2 separate regions of the Homo sapiens genome follow, and region 2 is linked to region 1. The links come from fine-mapping of genetic effects on gene expression. A gene starts in region 1. The other region holds a variant in brackets. All regions are shown on one strand. Distances are from middle to middle.

Region 1 (12,020 bases):
AGGTCCCAGTGGGAAAGGCAGGGTATTAGAAATTTGAAAACATACTGTAATAAGCAGACCTACATTTTTCCAGTGGGAAATCCTTAACTAAAAAACAACAAAATCCTAACACCACCTCCAGAGAGCAGCTAGAGTTATCAGCCCTGCGCTGAGAACTTTAAACATGCCTTTTCTATTCCTGTTTTCATGCCTTTTATATTCATTTTCTCCCTTCAGTCAGATATCATCCATTAAATGACCGAAATACAGATGCTCCACGACTTGTGATGTTACATCCTGATAAACCCAGTGTAAGTTACACGTATTTTAAATCAAAAAGTGACTTTTGAACTTACAACAATTCCAATTTACAATGACTTCACCTGGATGTAGTCCCATCATAAATCGAGGAGCACAATGAATTCATATGGCTTTCACATCATGGTAAAGTTGAAAAAATCTTAAGTCGAACCATTATAAGTCAGGGGAATCTGTATACAGTACTTTCTTATGTATGTAACCAATGGATTATTTTTAAAACTTAGTTGAATTAATCTTAAAACATTAAAAATGATAATTATTAGAGCTTATGTGTAGCAACATTACCATGGGGCGGGAGAGTATATCAATTTATACAGTCTGTGAAAAACATAAGCACCACAAAGATACTTCAGGGTAATAAGTAGAAGCAAAAGTTTTAAATGACAAATAATCCTCACAATTAGCTTAAAATAAAGAAGCCTTCTAATATTTGATTTAGTGTACTTAAAATGAGTCCTTAATATCATTTTTCTGATTATAAAAGTATACTTAAGAAAATCGTGGCAATCTATGCCATAAATTATAAAGGAAACACAAATGTAAATATATATATTAAAAAAGGAAAGTTAGCTATACCTGACCTACAACTAAGCATAATTAACACTTTGGTGGACCTCCATCTTCTATGCATACAAATATACTGTAAATAAAACTAGGTTCAACATGAGTAAATGCCCTTAACACTAGAGGGGGGATTCACTTGAGCAATGTCTAGTATACCATGACAAACAGTCAAAAGTCAGCAAGATTTTAAGGTTAAGAATGACTACTAAATTTACTTCTTTCTTCTATAATTTTATATACAGATCAACTTCTACAAAATGATTTCTTCACCCATTTCAGATCACATTCCTTTGGGAAGCAGCAGTTAAATATACGGTTTTAGAAGGATGTGTGGTGAAGGCTTCAAGAGTTACAGATCTCAGAAGCTCATCTGTGGGCCCCTCTATAAATCAGTAAATGTCCACTTTAAAAGATTTTCTCTAGTCATAATTTCAAAGCCACACTGGGCAGGTGGAACCACCACACTGTCAAGAGATTCTATAATCCAAACGCTTTCTTCTCTTGCATCACAATATTCTAAATAGGGGAGACTCGTGAAATAAAACTATCAGAAACCATTTTCCCAAAGAATTTCTCAAGTTAGACCCTATTATATTCTAGTAGTTTTCACATATTGAAATACTCATCACACTTTAGACCAAAATACCTGAACAGGCCTAAAAGGCTCATCAGATTCTTTCCACCTAGAAAACAGGAGACAGACGATTTTTTCAATATCATTCCGAGGCCAAAGAATGAAATCCATCTCCTGAGTACAGCCAATTACATCCTATAAAATGATTAAAAAAAAAAAAGTTTACTTTTAAAGAAACAGCTACATCAAGCCATGTCACAAATTATAGGGTTCCCCTATAAAAACATTTTATAAGTACAAAAGATCTACCATATATCATTTTATATCTTAGGAAGTAAACATAATAGTTTATAATCTGAATAGCTCATGATGTAATTTTTTATTTTTGGAGACAGAGTCCCTCTCTGTGGCCCACACTGGAGTGCAATGGTGCAATCTCCGCTTACTGCAAATTCCGCCTACCAGGTTCAAGCGATTCTCGTGACTTAGCCTCCCGAATGGCTGGGATTACAAGTGTGTGCCACCATGCCCCGCTAATATTTTTTGTATTTTTAATAGAGACGGGGTTTCACCACGTCAGCCAGGCTGGTCTCGAACTCCTGACCTCAGGTGATCCACCCACCTCAGCCTCCCGAAGTGCTGGGATTACAGGCTAAGTCACTGTGCCTGGCTCTAATTTTAATTTTTATCTTACAGAGAGTCACATACACTCAGTCCAATGCTCCTAACACCAAGACCTAGACTTATCAGTGCATGGTGAAAACTCCAACAAAATCTCTGATATCTGTTGTATTGTCAGACCCTGAACCTTTATTTCCACCTTTAAAAATCAATCTATTTAAAAAGATGTCTTAGAACTCCTAATATGAATCACTATCCTATTATAGCTGAAATGCTATTTTTATTTTGATAGAAAACTACTTTTCTCCATTCCTGACTTCTGCTTCATTATTGTAGCCAGCATATTAATTTTTGAAGGTCCATAATTTCTTCCAGACCAGTATCTGGTTATCTCCAGCATTCTCCCCAAGTAACTGTGGGGATCTCTTGGTTCAGGTATGCCCAGATTAACTTTTAACATGTTGCAGAAGTTTACAAAGCTGGAAGCACTTCCTTATATTCATATTCCCCCCAAAAAAGGAAATACAATAAACGGAGACATAAGACATTTATCCACAATAATAATACACAATATTATGAGCCTAATACAACAAAGTTGTCCATGTTTTACTCAAGGTCAAGTTTTCAAAAACAAACCTACTTCAAAAATTTTTAAACTTTCTGCATAACACTTAAATTATTAAAAACAGTTGGCTACTGGCAGGGTGCAGTGGCTCACACCTGTAATCTCAGCACTTTGGGAGGCCAAGGCAGGAGGATCACTTGAGGTCAGGAGTTCCAGACCAGCCTAGCCAACATGGCAAAACCCCATCTCTACTAAAAACACAAAAAATTAGCCAGGCATGGTGGCGCACAACTGTAGTCCCAGCTACTCGGGAGGCTAAGGCAGGAGAATCATTTGAATGCGCGAGGGCAGAGGTTGCAGTGAGCCAAGATCATGCCACTGCACTCTAGCCTCAGCGAAAGAGCAAGACTTTGTCTCAAAAAAAAAAAAAAAAAAAAAAGTCCGAGATCATCAACACCTAACACAGATTAAAGAAATCCCTTTATATACTTCATCCACATAAGAATGGTCTGGCGTAAAAAAACGTGTTTTTCTAATCCTATAAACACAATGCTTTAAAGTCATGATCCCAGTTATCAACATGGCACAAAGACAAATTTACCTGAAGAGACTGGTCACTATCATAACTATCCACTTTAAGGGGGGTTCGGGGGGCGGGGAAATGCAAGGTTAATCCACAGAAACTTTATCAAGTCAAGACTTAAGGCAGAACTTACCCTTCTCATAGACTGATATCGAGGAGCATGGAGCTGTACCACATCCTTCTGTAAAAGCTCTAGGGAACTTTCCAAGGAATAGCTGGAATCTCGCACACCTTTCAGGATATTTTCTTCATAATTATTTGTCATGACTGGTATAACCTCAGACACTTCAAAAAGTGCTGACTTTTTCTTCTAGAAGAAAAGAAAATGGTGTATTAACCCACAGGGAGCACAGCCTTTTAACACTCAGTTCATATTACAATGTCATGTAACATTAACTCCACAAAATTCTTAACTGTCTGCAGTAACTTATACACTGAAAACACATTTTCAGATAGGTAATTCCTTCTGTTCTTCCCCTACCTCCCCCTCCAACCATACATGTACAAACTGTCATTAGAATGTTTAATGCTTGAGTTTTATAGCATAATGGTATCCATAGCACTATTTTGGACAATACTTCTTAAAATTAAAAATCTCACCAGTTTTAAAACAACGCTATTCAGACAAATGAATAGTTTTATTCCTTATATGGGCCAATTTCCATTACTTTCTCAATATTACATTATCAAAACCATCAATATTTCTGGTTTTTCTTTTTTTTTTTTGAGATGGAGTCTCACTGTGTTGCCCAGGCTAGAGGGCAGTGGCACCATCTTGGCTCACTTGCAACCTCTGCCTCCTGGGTTCGAGGGGATCTCCTGCCTCAGCCTCTCGAGTAGCTGGGATTACAGGCCTGCGCCACCACACCTGGCTAATTTTTGTATTTTCAGTAGAGACAGGGTTTCACCATTTGGCCAGGCTGGCCTTGAACTCCTGACCTCAAGTGATCCGCCTGCCTCAGCCTCCCAAAGTGCTGGGATTACAGCCGTGAGCCACTGCACCCAGCCAAAACCATCAATATTTGAAAGACTAAAAAGAAGCACACCAAGTTCTCTTTTAATACTACTCAAGACCAAGTACGCATCACTAAACTACTTTTTAAAATTCTGTACTATTAAGTATATATCATGAATTATTCAGGGCAACTGCATGGACACTGTCCATTCACAGAATAAAACCAGATTATCGTTGGTGTTAAAGAATTAAGATGGTGCAATTTGGGGCAATATATAGATTAAATACAAAGATATGGTCTCACTACTTATTATCTTGGATTTATTTAAAGAGCATACACTGTATCATCTTCAACTAAAATCCAATCTCATCAATTTTGAGTCAGCTTGTCAACAAAACAAAAGTGGAGATGTAAGTCCTTGATACCACCCAATCTTGGGACAGTCACTTCAAAAATTACTTAAAAATCACTTCACAATGCTATACTTCAGCAGCTAAGAATGTTCTTAAATACAAATAACCTTTTAGGAGTTAAGAGTTGGGGCTGTGCGTGGCAGCTCCTGCCTGTAATCCCAGCACTTTAAAATGCCATGACAGGAGGATCACTTTAGCCCAGGAGTTCAAGACTAGCCTGGGCAATACAGTGAGGCCTGTCTCAGCAACAAAAATAATAAGAGTTAAACAGTAGGGGGAAACCTGGAAAACTTCCAGATACTTAATAGATACCACACTAAGATTGTATTTCTGATCTGAAATTAGCTAACAATTTAAGCACCAAAATCCAAGTAGCACTTCCTTACATTCATAACCTCATCTTTGGTCAAATAAGCCTTGCTGATAATTTAAGAAAATGTTCATTTTAAGTTGCAAAAAATACTGCTCTTATCATCCCATCCTTGACTACTCACAACTTACTGTTTGCTATTTAACTGCGGAACTAATTCTGATTAAGACCTCCACCGCCCCTAAAAATGAAACTTCCTCTAGGTCATTTTGAGTTTTTAAAAACTGTACTTCTATACAAGGCAAAATGAACTCTAAGTAAAAAAGAAAATCACACTTCTAAACACAAATTAACCATTTCAGTATTTAATTGCTCCTAAAAGGTGTATTCTACTTCATTAAATGTAAGAGAAAAGGTTACCTACATTACGCAGTTTAAGAAACAGGATAAACTTTAGCATATAAACAGTCTGATTACAATTTCACACTTTCAACCATCTTATTTATACTCTACATTAGATAATCTTTAAATTCCATCATAAGGTTTCCCATGTTAACTCCATATAAAATTTTGTAATCTTGCCCACCCCATGTCAACTCAGTGTATACTACTACTAAGCTTCAGACTCAAATTTATTTCCAAACCAAAGAACGCTCAAGGGTCTTTTCGCATGCTGCAACTGCTCAATTCACAGAATCACCCCTAAGGGTGAAAAAACAGAGCATACAAAGCAGACTTTTTTTCAACCACTCTTTAACCTAATATTCATAATAATTTAAGAGTAACAAATAATATACACTTACAAAAATTACTTGTGCTAATTCACCATTAAGAACTTTAAATTACCTTCTCCTTGAATACAAAGGCAATATACATCTTGAAGTCAAACTGGTCAGCTAGAGATTCTTTTTTCTTTCTAAGCTGAGCACGTAGTCTGTTCAGAGCTTGTTTCTTCCGGGAGTTTGGGTCCCCCATTTTGAAATACAGGTGGTACTAAAGCCTTTGGAAATTGTCACTAAACTATGGGCACTTTTTCTTAAGACTCAAGTACAACAGAAACAAGTCATTTTTTTTCCTGCTAATATGATTGATTAGCGAAAATCACGACTATAACCCAAAAACTGCACCTTCTGTCAATATTAGCAGACTGTCATATTACAGGGTCAAGAAACAAAAGCTGCTGTCCAGTCATGTTTGGACAATAACGTTTGGGGTCAGACGGGAAAAAGGGAGGAAAGAAAGGAAAGAAAGAGGAGAAAATAACTAACTTTCTGGAAAACACATTTGGCTTAACTGCCAAAATAAAGGCTTTGCGGAGAAATGAAAAGCCTATAATCAGGATTTAGGTGTGCAATAAAACACAGCTGACACCAGACCAATCCCTAAAATCCATCCGGATTTTCCCCCCTTTTTAGAAAAGGGATTAAGGAACAGGGAGGGGGAAGTGTGATCCTTGCTTTCCAAAAAAAAAAAAAAAAAAAACTCACCAAAACCAAAACCAAAACCAAACACCAAAACAGGGTAGGTGAATGAAACTGAAATATCCAATTAGATTTTACCCAGCCAGCTCCATGGCTGTAGTACCTAATTCTTAGTTATTTCAGATTTCACTATTGCTATGTATTGTCAGTGCTTGTTATTGATTACACTTGGTGGTGAGCATAGAGAAAAGTGCAAAATCGGTAGAGAAGGAAAGGGAGAGGTACAGGGTTTCCCTGCAATCAACTACAGTGTATACCGGGGGCGGGCAGCTGTGGCCCAAAGGAGCCATGAGAAAAAACAGCGGAGTCATTACCAACTTCCCCATCACCCACATTTTCACCCTCAGGCGGCTGCTAACGCTGCTGCCAAGGAGAATCATGACGGCAGAAGGAAAAGGGGTATATAATACGGTATTAATTATTCCGGCTCTGTGGTTAGACCTGATTAATGCCCGGGTTCCCAACACCCCCAGCCTGCAACTAGTCCTACATTCCCCAAGGGAGACTTCCCTGTGGATCTGCCCCCGTTCAAAATGGTGGGGAGTGCGATTTATCTTCTTGTGAGCATTGCCGAGGCAAAGGTGGCGGGTTCTTCTCCCAAATCCCAGGCGGTGCCCGGAGACCACCTGCCTTCCACCCCCGCAGGTCCCACCCCCACCCCTTGCCTTCAGCGGCAGCGACTCACTCGCACCACGGGAGACACAGGATCACTCAGGTTTTCACTCATTTCATCGTGGAAACAATTCCCGCCCGGGTGGAGTGGGCGGGAGAGGGTAAATGGGAAGGTTCAGTGGGGGAAAAAAAGAAAATAATTGTGTTAATATTACTTCTAAAGTAAGCCCACCCACCCTCCCCCCAAAAAATTAAGTTCCCGGATTAGCTCTCTCTCACGTTGAACAGACCATGTTTCCAGAGTTTGGATTGTTTAGGGTGGGGTCGTTAGTTGTTTCCCGAGGGGCAGGGGGTGGAATTGAGGCAGCTAGGGCGGGGTGGGTGACGGGGAAATCCCCTCCCTGTCCCCGCGGAGCCCGGGACTCACGGACCGACTCTAGGGCGGGGTTTGGGCCCTCTAGCCGCAGCCTGCGGGCGGAGCGGTGGCGGCGGCGGAAGAGGCGGCGGCGGCGGGGGCGCTGCTGGTAGCACGGGCAGGAGCCATGTCAAGAGAAAACCACCAGCCAACTGAGCCCCTCCATCCCCGCTGCAGTGCGCACCGTGACTGGACCGCCCGCGCTGCTGCCGCCGCTCAGCCCCCACCTGGGACCCATAGTCTGGCTCGGCGCCCTGGGCGGCAACGGAGGGGAAGGACGCGGAGACAGCGGCAACAGGGAGAGAAAAAGAAAAAGAGGAAAAACAAAGAGAAAGATGGGGAGTTGGATTGGTACTGGCGGCGGAGGGGGAAGGGAAAGGAAGCCCTGCGCTAAGGGTCAGCAAAGTAACCCCCCAAAATAAAGTTATTTCAGTTCAAGCATCTGCTCTTGAGTCTTTCTTCCCCCTACAGTCGGATTCCGGCTCTCAGGAAAGGTCGAGGAGACCCGGAGGGGGGAAAAGCCGAAGCGGTTGGTGAGCGTCCGCGGCAGTACTGCCTCGTTCCCCCCCCCGCCGGTGGCTGCAGAAGCGGCGAAGGCCTCGGGCGCCTCGCGGGTCCGGGGCAGAGTCGCGTTTGAGAAAAGAAGCGAGAACAAACAACTTAAAATGGCAGCGACGGCCGCTGCGTCACCCGCCTCTCACCGGCACCGCCCCGGTGTGACTGCGACTGCGCGCCCTGCGGGACCCCACCATTTGCGCAGAATCAAAGGGGGAGAAAGGATTGGAGGTGGGAAAGTTTTCAAGGTTACCGAAAAAGAGGAAAACAGATCAAGAGTACGGAATAGGGACAGGTCTTTTAAAAGTGGAGCCTTTGAATTTAACCTCTCCATTTCAGTAATCGCCCCTCAAAAGGGGAGTTTGAGAGTTGAGACTCCTCTCTCCTCCAGTATGGAGTATCCAAGGGGCGTGGAAAGGGGGGGGCTCCCCGCCACTCCTTCCGCCCCCCTTCTTCAGGAAGTCCCAGTCTCCTGAGTTGGCTCTTCGCCCCGCCCCGATGTCGTCATAAAAGCACGCCCTCAACCATCCTCAACAAAACACCCGGATGGAGTCGCACTTCCCGAGTCTCGTCAGCCTCTCAGAGTCAGGCTGGGCGCGTGACAGAGCCGAACTAGCGACCTGGGCGGGCCAAAACTGCGGAAGTCGGCGGAGAGTGGGCGAGGGTAGGGGCGGAGCAAAGAAGGAAAAGGAAAGTGTGTGTTGGAGATTGGAAGATTCTTATTTCGATTCTTATAATTAGTTAGTCCTGGGGGTCGGCCCCGCGGTATCCTGCGGCAACAAACCTAGAACTCAATTCGACACCTGGAATTTAAACGGCGTGCGGGAGCAGATGTCTCATGTTAGTGCTACTTGCCTCTGTCCCCACCCCGCCACGTGCGCAGGCAGGGAGGGCGGTCCTCAAGCTTCGAACAAGGTCAAAGACGTTGTTCAGACGTTGCTGCTGTGGCTTAGGAGAGGAGCAGCCCAGTCTGACTCGTGGATTTTTACCCACTGCTGTCAGAACACACTTTCTGTTAGAATCCCCCAAGACCTCAGACCTACAGCCTGCCCCTTAGGTGGTTCACTGTCTTCATCGAAACGTTTGCCGCCGAGTCGCACGTCCTTGGCACCAAAAAGCGTTGAGTCCATTTTTCAAAGCTCTAATGTGCTCTTTAAAACACAGTTATGTAAGTACTTAGCAAAGGTCAATACTCCACATAAGCAATGCTTATATACTCATTGGCTACTCTGAGATTTTAGAAGTCCATTGGGACCCCAATTACTACTTTTCACTTCGTGAAGTCAAAACAGATCAGCTGTAATAACATTATTTCAGCCATGAGCCAAAAGAATAACTGGTACCCACCCTTCAATATAAATTGTCCAGAACCAAAGGATGAGTCCTGAGATTTCCAAATAACTTCTAATCTCGGAAGATACAGCTTGCATTTTGCTAGTGCTTTGCTGATTTGTTTTCAAAATCATGTAACTATGGAAAGCTCACAGAGATAAAACAGAAAATGTCACGTAGTTTAGAGCATTGGTTTAAAAAAGAAAGATTTTTAAAAGTAAGCCGAGCATGGTGGCTCACGCCTGTAATGCCAGCACTTTGGGAGACCGAGGCAGGCGGATCACCTAAGGTCAGGAGTTCGAGACCAGCCTGGCCAACATGGTGAAACCTCGTCTCTACTGAAAATACTAAAATCAGCCTGGCTTGGTGGCAGGCGCCTGCAGTCCCAGCTACTCGAGAGGCTGAGGCAGGAGAATCGCTTGAACCCGGGAGGCGGAGATTGCAGTGAGCCGAGATCGCACCATTGCACTCCAGCCTGGGCAACAGAGTGAGACTCCGTCGGAAAAAAAAAAAAAAACAAACAAACATATGAGACATACAAGCCAGTATGATCTTCAGGTGATCCGCCTGCCTCAACCTCCCAAAGTGTTGGGATTACAGGCATGAGCCACCATTCCCAGCCGGCTTATATGTTCTTGACCTGGCCTTGACTTGTATCCATGATCAACTTCATGGAAGAATTTTTAAAATAACAGCTTTATTGAAATATAATTCACATACCGTATTTATCTACTTGAAGTGTACAATCCAATGGTTTTTAATATATTCAGTGTTGTGCAGCCATTACATTACCCCAAAAAGAAACCCTGTACCTATTAGCAGTCACTTCTCTTCTTTCTAGTTTATGTTCTGTCTATAGATTTGCCGTTTCTGAAATTTCATATAAATGAAATCATTTAATATGTGGTCTTTTGTGACTGGCTTCTTCACTTAGCATAATGTTTTCAAGGTTCATCCATGTTGTAGCATGTATCAGTACTTAATTCCTTTTTATTGTGGAATAATATGTATTGTATGAAATTCTATATTCATTCATCAGTTGATGGACATTTGAGTTGTCTCTGCCTTTTGGCTGTTATAAATAATGCTGCTATGAACATTTACTTAAAAGCTTTTGTATAGACGTATGTTTTTAATTCTCTTGGGCATATACTTAAGAGTGGAATTACTGGGATATATGTTAACTCTATCTTTAACCATGTGAGAAACTGCCAGATGTTTTCCAAGTCTGTTGCATCATTTTACATTTCCTCCAGCAGTGTATTCCAATTTCTCCACATTCTTGTTATTATGTCTTTTTTAGTATAACCATCCTAGTGGGTATGATGTATGTCATGGTGGTTTTGATTTTCCTTTCCCCAACGATTAATGATGTTGAGCATCTTTTCATGTGCTTATTGGCTGTTCTAATATCTTCTTTGGAGAAATGTCTATTCAGAACTTTTGCCCATTTTTATTTATCTACTTGTTTATTTATTTATTTTTTGAGACAGAGTCTCGCTATGTTGCCCAGGCTGAAGTGCAGTGGCATTATCTCAGCTCACTGCAACCTCCGCTTCCTGGGTTCAAGCAGTTCTTCTGCCTCAGCCCCGAGTAGCTGGGCCCACAGGCCCCCACCACCATGCCCGGATGATTTTTGTATTTTTAGTAGAGACGGAGTTTCACCATGTTGGCCAGGCTCGTCTCAGACTCCTGACCTCAAGTGATCCACCCACCTCGGCCTCCCAAAGTGTTGGGATTACAGGTGTGAGCCACCAAGCTCGGCCTTTTACCCATTTTTAATTTAAAAAATTGTTTTTTTAATTATTAAGGTGTAGAAGTTTTTTATTCTAGATACAAGTTCCCTGTCAAATATATACTTTACAAATACGCTCCCCTATTCTGTGGGCTGTCCTTTCACTTTCTTGGTGATATCCTTCGCAGCACGGAAGTCTTTAATTTTAATAAAGTCCAACTTATCTATGTTTTTCATTTGTCCCTTGTGCTTTTGTTGTTTTATCTAATACACCATTGAAGAATTTTTTCACTACTATAATAATCCTGAAAAAAACAGTATGGAGCAGATGTTGAGGAAAAAATGAAGTTTTTAGTTTCAGCTACTGTGAAACAGAATTGGAGACACCTGGTCACAGCTGAGCACATCCTATGAAACTGTGTTATGGGACTGTGCTAGGTCTTAATGAGATGAGCCAAGAAATAGCAGCAATGTCCCCTGGAGGACGAAAACACTGCTAGCTCAATTTTCTCTGTAACTTGAAAGGGCTATAAAATAAGAAGGTAGTCGAAGGAATTAAAATTTTTAAAAGCCGTGACCAAACGTTTCTCAATGAAATTCAGATAAAAGTCAGAGAGCATTCACTTAAGATTTAGCTTCTTTAACTGTGGAGAAATGCATTTCATTGTGTTAGAAATGGCTTACTTAGGGTTAGGCTGCTTCAAACACAATAGGATTTGTGGAGTGATGATTTGATGGTGGCACCTTGGCTAAAAATATCTGCTTAACTTCCCTTTTGGAGTTTTAAATTATACCACTAGATACATTGAAATTTCCCTGGTTGAAATGCAGATATCACTGCAAAGGTTACATTTTAATGAAATAACACCTTATAGAGATTCTGTGCGAGCCTCCTTTCTGAAGAAACACAATGCAGGCCAGCTTGGGCGGGCTCCTGTGTTAACTTCCAATCTTTAAAGAAGGACAACCTCGGATAATCCCAGTCTCTGACATTTATAGCAAGT
Region 2 (12,020 bases), 26 kb after region 1:
GTCAATCTTGATTCAAGGGCAGGAGATAGAGACATTATTTCTCGATGTGAGGAATGGTGTCAAAGTAGTATTTGGGGACTATATTTTATAATCGCTGTAAGCTTTAATTAGGAGCACATGAGAGGAGAGGGTGCTTCTGGGGTTCTGGTTTCTTGAGCTAGGTGGTGATTATACAGGTATCTTCACTCTCTAATGATTCCTTCATCTGTACATATGGTTTGTGCACCTTCCTGAGCATATGTTTCAACTCCAATAAAAGAAAAGCTTAAAAAGGATGCAAACATTCTTTATGTCCAGATATAGAACAATCCCTAAGACATAGTAACATGCTATCATGGTTAAGTACTGAGCTCTGAGGGCTTGCCTGCTGGGTTCAAATCTAGTTCTGCCAATCCTAGGCTTTGTGTCTCAGTTTTCTCATTTGTAAAATGGGGATTATAATAGCTCTTACTCCAGGAGGTTATCTCAAGGATTAAATGAGTTAAAACATGCAAAGCATTCAGAATACTAATAGAAAAATAGAAAGTGCTTGAGAACTGCTTGCTATTTTTGTTATATTAAATGAAAATTGCAATTTGTATAGGTAAAGCAGTGTCTACAGTATGATGCCTTATATGGTTTGGCTGTGTCCCCACCCAAATCTCATCTCAAATTGTAGCTCCCATAATCCCCTTGTGTCATGGGAGGGACCCGGTGGGCAGTAATTGAATCATGGGGGTGGGTTTTTTCCATGTTGTTCTCATGATAGTGAATAAATCTCACAAGATCTGATGGTTTTATAAAGGGCAGTTCCCCTGCATACCTGCCCTTGCCTGCCACCATTTAAGATGTACCTTTGCTCCTCCTTCACCTTCTGCCATGATTGTGAGGCCTCCCCAGCCATATGGAACTGTGTGTCCATTAAACCTCTTTTTCTTTATAAATTACCCAATTGTGAATATTTCATCATAACAGTATGAGAACAGGCTAATACACTGCCATTTGTGGGAAAATGAGTAGACGTACCCATGGGTACAAACTAGCTATAAGATCAGGATATACAATAAACTAATAACGTTGGTTGCCTGTGGGAGGGAGATTTTTCACAGTGTAGACTTTGGTACCTTTTGAATTTTCAACTATATGAAGGCTGCATCTGGGAAATGGGTCTGGGTAGGGAAGAGGACTGTTGCTTTTTTATTGAGTGAAAGTAGCCAGACACAAAAATTTAGTGTTATATTTTCTACAATGTACATGATAAACATACTAAAAGAAAAGACAAGATGGGTCAGATTACAGAGGGCCTTATAAAAGACCAGGCATGGAAATTTAGAGTTGATTAAGGCCTGAAAATGGCACTGGCAATGGTGATAAAAGGATGAATTTAAACACTTAATAGAAAAAATCTAGAAAGTAAAATATCTGGATAGAAAATGATAGAGGTAAGTGAAGAGGACACCCAAGTTTTGGTGCGAGTAACTGTTACGGACTGAATTGTGCCTCCCCAAAATTCATATATTGAAATCCTAATCCCTAGTATGCTTCAGAATGTGCCTGTATTTAGAGATAAGACCTTTAAAGAGATGATTAAGGTTAAAAAATTATTAGAGAGGTGAAAAAGTTATTAGAGTGGTCTCCAATCCAATATGATTAATGTCCTTATAAGAAAAGGGAGAGAAACCAGAAATACATGCACAAAAGAAAGGCCATTGCTGGGTACAGTGGTGCATGCCTGTAATCCCAACAACTTGAGAAGCTAAAGCAGGAGCATTGCTTGAGCTCGGGAGTCTGAGGCAGCAGAATGAGACCCTGCCTCTGGTGCAAAAAATAAAATAAAATAAAAGCCATGTGAGGACCCACCAAGAAGATGGCCATCTGCAAGCCAAGGAGAGAGAGTTCAGGAGAAACCAAACCTGCCAGAATCTTGATCTTGGACTTCTGACCCAGAGAACTGTGAGAAAATAAATTTCTGTTGTTTTAGCTATCCAGTCTGTGGTGTTTTGTTATGGCAGCCTGAGCAGACTAAGACAGTGACTAAGAAAGTGACCATGCCATGACCACAGGCAGGAAAGTGGGAAAGGGAGCTAGTTTGAGAAGGGAGGTGATTTTGAATTGCAGCACCAGCCAGGCATAGTGGTTCATGCCTATAACCCCAGCACTTTGGAAAGCCAAGCCTAGAGCCCAGCCATGGGAGGTTTGCCTGAACCCAGGAGTTCAAGACCAGCCTGGGCAATATAGTGAGATGCCATCTCTACAAAAAACTCATAAATTATCTGGGCATGGTGGCTTGCATCTGTAGTCCCAGCTACTTGGGAAGCTGAGGCAGAAGGATTGCTTGAGCCCAGGAGCTTCAGGCTACAGTTATCTATCACAGCAGCACTGCACTCCAGTCTGGGTGACAGACTGAGACCTCATCTCAAAAATAAATATGTAAATAAGGCCAGGCATGGTGGCTCATGGCTGTAATCCCAGCACTTTGGCAGGCCAAGGCAGGCAGATTACTTTAGGTCAGGAGTTCAAGACTAGCTTGGCCAACATGGCAAAACCCCATCTCTACTAAAAATACAAAAAAATTAGCTTGGTGTGGTGGTGCACGCCTGTAATCCCAGCTACTCAGGAGACTGAGGTGGGAGGATCATTTGAGCCTGGGAGGCAGAGGTTGCAGTGAGCTGATATCTGACCACTGCCCTCCAGCCTGGGCTACAGTGTGAGACTCTGTCTCAAAAAATAAAAAATTAAAATAAATAAATAAATACATATATACATAAAATAAAATTTAAAATTGCAGCCCCAGTGAAATATGGCGGCTCACGCCTGTAATCCCAGCACTTTGGAAGGCCAAGGAGGGCAGATTACCTGCAGTCAGGAGTTCGAGACCACCTGGCCAACATGGTAAAACCCCATCTCTACTAAAAATACAAAAATTAGCCAGGCATGGTGGCACATGCCTGTAATTCCAGCTACTCGGGAGGCTGAGGAAGGAGAATTGCTTGAACCTGGGAGGCAGAGGTTGCAGTGAGCTGAGACAGAGCCACTGCACTCCAGCCTGGGAAACAGAGCAAGACTCCATCTCAAAAAAAAAAAAAAAAAAGAAAAGAAAGAAAGAAAGAAAGAAAAGAAAAAGAAAACAGAACAGGCCTTTTTAACCGCAGAGGTAATGGCTACAGGGAAGATAATGTGACTTTGGAGTGAAAGGATAGAGAGAATAGGGAGCAAGGGAATACGTAGCAAAGGAATGGCAAGAGAAATAAAAGGCAATAAAAAGGGAAGGAACTGCTAGCAAATAGGACAGAAGCCAAGGAAGCCGAACATTTGAGGTATGAGAAATCTTTTTTTTTTCTTTTTAATGCTGTAGAGAGAAACAGAGAAAGAAAAACCAGAAAAGAATAATGGATTTAACTAAAAAGAGGTCTTTGTTGACCTTTTAGAAAACAGTTTCAGTGTTGCTGGGAGGATGGAAACCGCATTGCCAAGTATGCAGTAGATGAGATTGTGGATAGAGAACAAATGCAACCCCAAGGCATTTACCATCCATTTAAGAGCTTAGGTAGCCCACAGAAAGTGTGCTGGGGGCTGGGCATGACTATCCACGGAGACCTGTTGTAGCGTTGAAGGTAAATGGGGAAGGAACCAATGAAGTGGGAGAATAAAGGAAGACCAAGTAGAAGTGAAGTCCTCTGAAGGTTTGCCTAGGATGGTTGGGAACACCTTAGATGAATTTATTTTAGAAAGGAGGGGGATAAGACTCCCAGAGAGGGAGGAGGCAAGGTGGAGAGATGGCGTACCAATACACAGAAGTAGAAATTAGAATAATTGTAGGAGCTTGAGACTTGGTAGTGGCATACACAAGAAATTCATTGAATGTGAAGTAAGGGAATGGAAGGAAAGCTTGAGGAGAGAAAGAAAACCCATTGGTAAGATTATGAATTTCATACAGGCAAAAATTCATAAGAATTTCATACGAATTCGGTAAAAGATACCAAGCAATAGTAATACTTATTCACTAACAAAAGCTCAAGCATCTGTAAAACAAAAGAAATAACAAAGAACTAAAGACAATCTGGGCCGTTTACGAAATCCATGTGTGTGACCTTAAAGAAGCTCTTTCCCGAATCATTTTCTGTTGTTGCATTGCTGTTTCCAGAGTTCTGGAATTCTATGCCACAAGCTGAACATTAAGGTCATTGATATCATCTGAAGCCAGGAAGAGTCTCTGCTAGGAAGACTTTTAGCACAAAATCAACTATTCTCTGCTCCAAGTAAAATGTCTAAACTGTCTGCAAAGGCAAATGGCTAAAAGCTTTGACAGGAATACTTCGTTAAGTGAGATTAGTCATGACCTCTTAGTAATATAAGCCTGAAGAAAGAAATGAAAGTTGGAAGTAAAGATATGAGTCATGCTGCAACTTGGTAGCTGGCATTCATTCAGGAGCTCAACAATGTCAGCAGATCTTAGGCTCCTTCCTTCTGCTCTGCCAGTCCTTATTCTTGTTAACTCATAAATTCAAAATGGCTGCCACAGCTCCCAACATCACAGTTCAAAGGCAGAAAACAGGGTAGTCAGGGTAAAAGTCTTTATCCTTCTGGGGCTACTCTTATCAGGCGAAAGATTACCTTTCCCAGTAGCCCTGTAGTAGACTTCCCCTCAAATCTCTTTGCCATATAACTGACTACTCTTAGATGTAAGGAAGGCTGACAGAAGGACACAGAATGGCTATGACTGGCTTAGCTAATAATGACTCATCTGCTAGGGCTGGGTACATTCCCCAGACAAAATAAGGCAGTGGGGCAGGAGCAGGGAAATGGCTGTTGAGTAAGCAACAGTGTCTGTCACAGTGAATTTAGCCCATATACATATAAGTTTGG[T/C]CTTAATTCTGTATCAAATTTTGTATGATATTTTCTGGGTTTTTGTTGTTGTTGTTACTTTTTGAACACTTCTCTACTGGACTGTATTTTCTTTGTGTTTGCATGTGTGTGTTTCCTAATAGTTTATAGGGAAATAAATTTTTGTTCTAGTGGTTACCTTATAACTACAAGTTTATATAATAAACCTAATCCTCTTTCTTCAAGCAAAACCAGTTGACTCCATACTATGAACACTGACAAAATTAGCACACTATCACTTCCCTTTTTCTGCTGTTCTTAGTATTTATCTTCGCTTTTTTTTTTTTTTTTTTTTTTGTAGAGACATGGTTTCACCATGTTGGCCAGGCTGGTCTTGAACTCCTGGCCTCAAGTGATCCACCCACTTAGGCCTCCCAAAGTGCTAGGATTATAGGCGTGAACCACCACGCCTGGCCTTTATCTTTGCGTTTCTAAATATACTTATTCTATTAGGTTGGTGCAAAAGTAATTGCGGTTTTTGCCACGTACTTGATTTATCATCTTTAGATGATTTATTTCCATCCCTGGCTATTAAAATAATGAAATCAGCACAACTTAAACTACCTCCCTCTCTTCGTCACCTTTTCTCTCCCCACTATTGTTCGTTTTATACTTTCTTGATAGCAGGCGAGAATTAGAAAGAATGTAGGTGCTTGGTACTTTTACTGACATATAAGGGAGATTTTCTTGCTTAGGAGGATGGAAAGGAGATGGCTTTCACTTTGATAATGGAACCAAACGTATGGCCTGGTCATGAAGGAAGGACAAGCTTCTAACCCAAGGTTATTTTCATGAGATATGAAAGGAAAAATATCAGCTCCAGGTGTGCTGGCACAGAGTCCCAGCTACTCAGGAGGCTGGGGCAAGAGGATCATTTGAGCCCAGGAGTTTGAGTCCAGCTTGGGCAACATAGCAAGACCTATCTCTAAATAAATCAATAAATAAAGTATTCAGTACTATGTGGAACTGAATTTTGAGGAAAGTCTAGTAGGGGAGAGATATGTAGCTTTTCTTCAGCATCCAACACAGGATTTAAATCTGTGGAGAAGGTGGAGTTACCTCAGGTTTTTTATTTCCTTCTGAATGTCATAAGTAGATTTGGACCTAAGGCTGTCCAATTCCAGAGAGCAGTATAAAATGGGGAAATCACTTTTGCCCTAAGATTAGACTGCAGCTTTGGTTTCACCCTGCTTGTTCATGCAGTTCCTGCAGACGTTGACCTTCTAGACTGTCTGCCTAGACCACACAGGCCTCGTGTCTCCTATTCCTCAGCTCACTTCTTAAAATGGAACTTCCCTTCTCCCACATCTTATAGGACCTGCGTCACCTCTTTAATTGTATATTAATGAGCTCTTCTGGTACTCGACGTCTTACCTTTCTATTAGTGTCCACCAGCCTCCTGATTAGCCACACTCCTAGTCTAGTCCTCACCAGACCACCCCGTCATATCACCGCTTAAATCCCAGAGTGCCAGTTGAGAAAGTAGAAAGCCAGATGAGAATGTTGCTCTGAAAACCAAGAGGGAGATCTGTGTGTGTGTAGGAAGTTGTCCCTTATAGGATTGGCCAACTTTTTTGGTAAAGGGTCAGATAGTAATTACATTAGACTTTGCAGGCCCTCTAGTCTCTGTCACTACTACTCAGTTCTGCCATTGTGTCAGGAAAGCAGTCATAGACAATGCGTGAGCAAGTGAGCTTGGTTGTGTCTTGCTCTGTCGCCCAGGCTGGAGTGCAGTGGCTCTATCTTGGCTCACTGCAACCTCTGCCTCTCAGGTTCAAACAATTCTCCTGCCTCAGCCTCCAAAGTAGCTGGGACTACAGGCATTCACAGCCACGCCCAGCTAATTTTTGTATTTTTAGTAGTAGAGATGGGGTTTCACCATGTTGGCCAGGCTGGTCTTGAACTCCTGACCTCAAGTGATCCGCCTGCCTCAGCCTCCTAAAGTGCTGGGACTACAGGCATGAGCCACAGCGCCCGGCCCAAAAACCATTCTTAACTCCCAGGCTGTAATGAAAAAGAAGATGAGGCAGATTTGGCCTGTGGGTCATTGTTTGCCAATGACTGGTCTATAAAACTAAATGTTAAAAGCTGAGGTAAGATCAATGAGAATCATAATGGACAGAGATTCTTTAGTTTGTTTGTTTGTTTGTTTACAGAGAAGATATAAGATCCTTAATGAGCTCTACAAAAATATTTTGGTGTTTTTTGTTTGTTTGTTTGTTTGTTTTTTTGACACAAGGCTCGTTCTGTTGCCCAGGCTGAAGTGTAGTAGCATGATCCAAGCTCACTGCAGCCTCGAACTCCTGGGCTCAGGCAATCCTCTTGCAAGTCCTAGCTACTCGGGGATTGCTCAAGTCCTGAGTAGCTAGGACTATAGGCATGGCATGCACCACTATGCCTGGCTAATTTTTTTCTTTTGTAGAGATGGGGGTCTCGCTATATTGACCAGACTGGTTTCAAACTCATTCCTGGCCTCAAGTGATCCACCTGCCTCAGCCTCCCAAAGTGTTGGGATTACAGGCATGAACCACCAAGCCTGACCCCAAATTATTTGTTAAATGAGCCCTGTCTCATGGATTTGGGGATCTTACCATTTACCCCAACTCAGGCATATCCAGGTACCAGAATGAAAAAGAAGGAACACCTGAGCATCTGATCCACTCAGCTTCTTTGTCTTTCTTTCCGAATAAGCCAGAAATGCAAAAGAAACTGGCAGAAGATTGTTTTCTCTTAGTCTGGTCTCATCCGATTTATTTTAGCCTCAAGGAAGACAGGACTTCCACATAGTCTACAAAATATTAGAGAACTGTTCTTGGTCTGATTGTGCTTTATCAGTTGTTTGTTAGTTTAAACGGATAACCTGAGCTGATTTTTAAAACACCGATTTTACTTGGAATGTGCCAAAACTGTCATTATGCTTTTTATTATGTATAACTTTAATGACTATAGTAACTATCTGGAGAACACTGAGCAGGTCGTTATCCAGACATCCATTGTTATAATCATTGCCACATGCTAGACTTGTTTTTTTAAAATAACCTTTTTATTTTAGAACAATTTTACATTTACAGAAAAGTTGCAAAAATATTATAGAGTTTCCATATAACCCTCGCTCACTTTCCCCCAATGTTAACATTTTTACATTCTATGGTACAGCTGCCAAAATAGGAAACCAACATCGACACGATACTATTAACTAAACTCTAGTCTTCATTTGTATTTCACCTGTACTAGACTTTTGATAATAAAATCAGTGTTAAGTTGTTACAACTGGGCTGCCATTTTATAATAAAGCAGGCATAAAAGATCAGTAATTAGTTTAGTCTCTAAACTAAATTAGATTAAGAGTAGGTTATGTGACCAGGGGCAGTGGCTCACATCTGTAATACTAGCACTTTGGGAGGCTGAGGCGTGAGGATCACCTGAGGCCAGAAGTTCAAAAGCAGCCTGGGCAACATAGCAAGACCCCCATCTCTACAATAAAAATTTTAAAAAATTAGCCATGTATGGAAGCACACATCTGTAGTCCCAGCTACTCCAGAGGCTAAGGTGGGAGGATTGCTTGAGCCTGGAAGTTCAAGGCTGCAGTTAAAGGTTGGGAGTTCAAGACTCCTTGACTGTGTCACTACAACACTCCAGCCTGGGTGACAGAGTGAGATCCTGTCTCAAAAAAAGAAAGAAAGAAAAGAAAAGACAAAGAAAGAAGGGAGGGAGGGAGGGAGGAAGGAAGGAAGGAAGGAAAGAAAGAAAAGAAAGAAAAAGCTTATGAATGCTCATCTGACAAGCTAATTAATTTTCTGCATTTTACTGATTTAAGTATCCACTTTCTTACTCCATGTAGAGACAACAACAATAGGCCAGGTGCAGTGGCTCACGCCTGTAATCCCAGTTCTTTGGGAGGCCAAGGCAAGTGAATCACCTGAGGTCAGGAGTTCGAGACCAGCCTGAACAACATAGTGAAACCCCGTCTCTACTAAAAATACAAAATTAGCTGAGCATGGTGGTGTGTGCCTGTAATCCCAGCTACTCGGGAGGCTGAGGTAGGAGAATCACTTGAACCATGGAGGCAGAGGTTGCAGTGAGCCAAGATCGTACCACTGCACTCAAGCCTGGGCAACAGAGCAAGACTCTGTCTAAAAAAAAAAAAAAGGAGCAACAACAAAAGCCATTGCCTACTGATTCTTCTTCTCTCTTAGTCTCAAAGTCCGCTACTCCTCATCCTAGGCTTAATTCTTAACGCAGATGTTGTTTTCTCAATAGCGACATGTTCCCTGAAGGGAACGTTCACCTGCCATTTGGGTATTACAAGGAGTTGAATATGCTTTTCTCTTTTGATGCTTAAAAAATTAGATACAGATCTTTCAAGCAAGCAAAACAGACTAATTAGCTCTGTGAAGCATTATGGCTAGAAATCAATGTGTGTTGTCTGTATTTGACCTGTGAATAGGGTTTCTAATAGTCAACTTTAAATTAGCTGTAGAAATGGGGGAGATAGGACTTTATCATGGATAAATAACATCCTACAACTTCATAATAAAGAAAGACAACAGGCTGGGTGTAGTGGCTCATGCCTGTAATCTCAGCACTTTGGGAGGCCGAGGTGGGCGAATCACGAGGTCAAGAGATGGAGACCACCCTGGCCAACATGGTGAAACCCCGTCTCTACTAAAAATACAAAACTTAGCCGGGCATGGTGGCACGTGCCTGTAATCCCAGCTACTCAGGAGGCTGAGGCAGAAGAATTGCTTGAAGCCGGGAGTTGGAGGTTGCAGTGAGCCAAGATCGCACCACTGCACTCCAGCCTGGCGACAGAACGAGACTCCGTCTCAAAAAAAAAAAAAAAAAAAAAAAAGACAATATTCTGCTTCTTTCTCCATCAAATCTTGTCTCTAGGTCACTAACAAGCAAGATCATTTTTGCCTTTTACCTGCATTCCTTCTTCTGAATAGCCTCTGGGTGTGGTTTTATTAAAACTGCAAAAGCCGGAAGAACTATAACTGGAGGATCAAAATGAAGCAGTTCATGAAGCAGACATCCTCATGGGTTCTCTCACATAAAGAGTTTCTCTCCATCTTCTTACAGATACGTGAAATTCCGGTAATAAGGGACAAAATGGTTAAGCTCTTGATTTGAGACTAAGGATGGAGATGGGGCCATTTAGAATGCCCAGATTCAAGAGGCAAGTAGAAAGGAGAGTTGACGAAGGGTCCCGAGCAGGGACAGCTGGAAAAGCAGGTGAGTCAGAAGTGAACGATGCCCTGGCAGGAGGAACGGATTTCAAGATGGAGCTCAACAGTATGAAATATGCCAAAGAGAGGAGCCTGGCCTCTGTTGAGTTTCCCAGTCGTGAGGCTCCAGATGGTGCCAAGGTGAAGTTGTGTGGATGGCACACCACAGTCCAGTGAGGCCCACTGAGAGGGAGGAAGTAGAAACAGCAGTGTGGACTCTGCTTTGAGAAAGTGGGCTGTGAGAAAGAAAGAGACAGATGGTGGTAGCTGGAGATGAACATAAAGTTAAGAGAACTTCTCTCCTTTTTAAGAAGGCTATGTAAGGTTGCTAGAAAAAGGAACCCATGTATAGGAAGTCGGAAAACAAAACTAAAAACTCAGGAAGAGGGAGAGGAACTAGAAGAAGCAAGTGTCATAATGACTTTCAAATGGTTCAGTTTTTAAAAAACGATATACAGAGCGTTAAATAAATTTGTCAAGATGATGACAGTTGTTGAATCTAGGCAGAGAGTATACAGGCTTTCATAATAATATTCTTTCCATTTTCATATACATTTGAAAATTTTCAAAACAAAGGGGATGTGACAAATCTGTGGACCAGCCATATATGGTTGAAAATTTTCTTTTAAAAATATTGAGAGGTATCCAAATATAATGTGAACATAAAATTGCAACTGAAAAGTTATGATTAAATGTTCACAGCCATACCTAATCTAATGGACTGCAGATAATATTGTGTTATAGACCTATAAAAATTGTTTCACTTGAATTTTTGTATTGCAGTTTATTTAAACTAAGAAAAAAGGTCATGGCCAGGTGTGGTGGCTCATGCCTGTAATCCTAGCAATTTAGGAGGTCCAGGTAGGCAGATCACTTGAGGTCAGGAGTTCGAGACCAGCCTGGCCAACCCTGTCTCTACTAAAAATACAAAAATTAGCTGGACGTGATGATGCATGCCTGTAATCCCAGCTATTTGGGAGGCTGAGGCATGAGACTCTCTTGAACCCAGGAGGTGGTGGTTGCAGTGAGCTGAGATCGCGCCATGGCACTCCAGCCTGGGTGACAGAGTGAGACTCTGTCTCAAATAAATAAATAAATAAGTCATAATATTTTCACACAATATACACTTAGTTCTTTAAGTGACAATTGTCACAGATAGCAGAAAGACTTAAGGAATGCTGCACTTGTAATCCATACAAAATACCAATGTTTTGGGTGATACATAACGAAATATCACAAACACTTTTCAAAATATCATAGTAGCCAATATATAGGGAATGACTTTGGTGAGCATAGAAGTTTAGAAAAGAAAACAAATCACACTGGAACTATCTGATTTCTTTAAAAATCACTGAACAAGAAAAGGTACATTGAACTTCACATACCGATTTTATATAACTTCTGTACAGTACCTTGACTTAAATCCAAGAGCAAAAGTTAAGACTCTCCTTTAGTTTTGGTAAACAACTACAAGGTAAACTTGGATGACCTTTTCCCCTGGATTTTACTGAAAATAGTCTTTTACATTTTTTATCTAAAAGAGGGCAGGTTTGGCACTTTTATACCGATGTCACCAGTGTTAATGTTTCTTGGACTCTTGGGAGGGTTTATATTCTATACAGCTGATACAGCATGGGCTGCTAGGTTCCTGTAAAGCCAACCTTTGTTTTTTTCAGCTTATTTTGCACATTAATTTGTGTAACAAGCTCATTCTTGTTGGTCTCTGATCTGGTTTGACTCTGTGTCCCCACCCAAATTTCATCTCAAATTGTAATCCCCACAGGTCAAGGGAGGGACCTGTAATCCCCACATGTCAAGGGAAGGAGGTAATTGGATCATGGGGGAGGTTCCCCCAGGCTGTTCTCATGATAGTGAGTGAGTTCTCATGAGATCCGATGGTTTTGTAAGGATCTCTTCCCCCTTCACTCT

The links. PIP is the estimated chance that this variant, and not a neighbour inherited with it, causes the effect.
Region 2: its variant is fine-mapped to the expression of C6orf62 in whole blood (TOPMed, PIP above 0.99).

What each region holds. Positions count from the first base shown.
Region 1 is chr6:24,712,808-24,724,827 of GRCh38, forward strand. It overlaps C6orf62 (chromosome 6 open reading frame 62), which reads right to left and starts at 6,347. Exons shown (of 5, transcript NM_030939.5): 1 at 5,733-6,347; 2 at 3,341-3,517; 3 at 1,511-1,633. The coding sequence starts at 5,861. RefSeq lists enhancers at 7,028-7,821, 8,121-8,870, 8,616-9,409, 9,001-9,050, 9,101-9,190 and a silencer at 7,391-7,560.
Region 2 is chr6:24,739,051-24,751,070 of GRCh38, forward strand. LINC02828 (long intergenic non-protein coding RNA 2828) reads left to right here and starts at 3,255. Exons shown (of 3, transcript NR_183315.1): 1 at 3,255-3,296; 2 at 9,946-10,098. It also overlaps the pseudogene AP3S1P1. RefSeq lists an enhancer at 4,475-4,564. The variant T/C (reference allele first, on the strand shown) is at 4,846.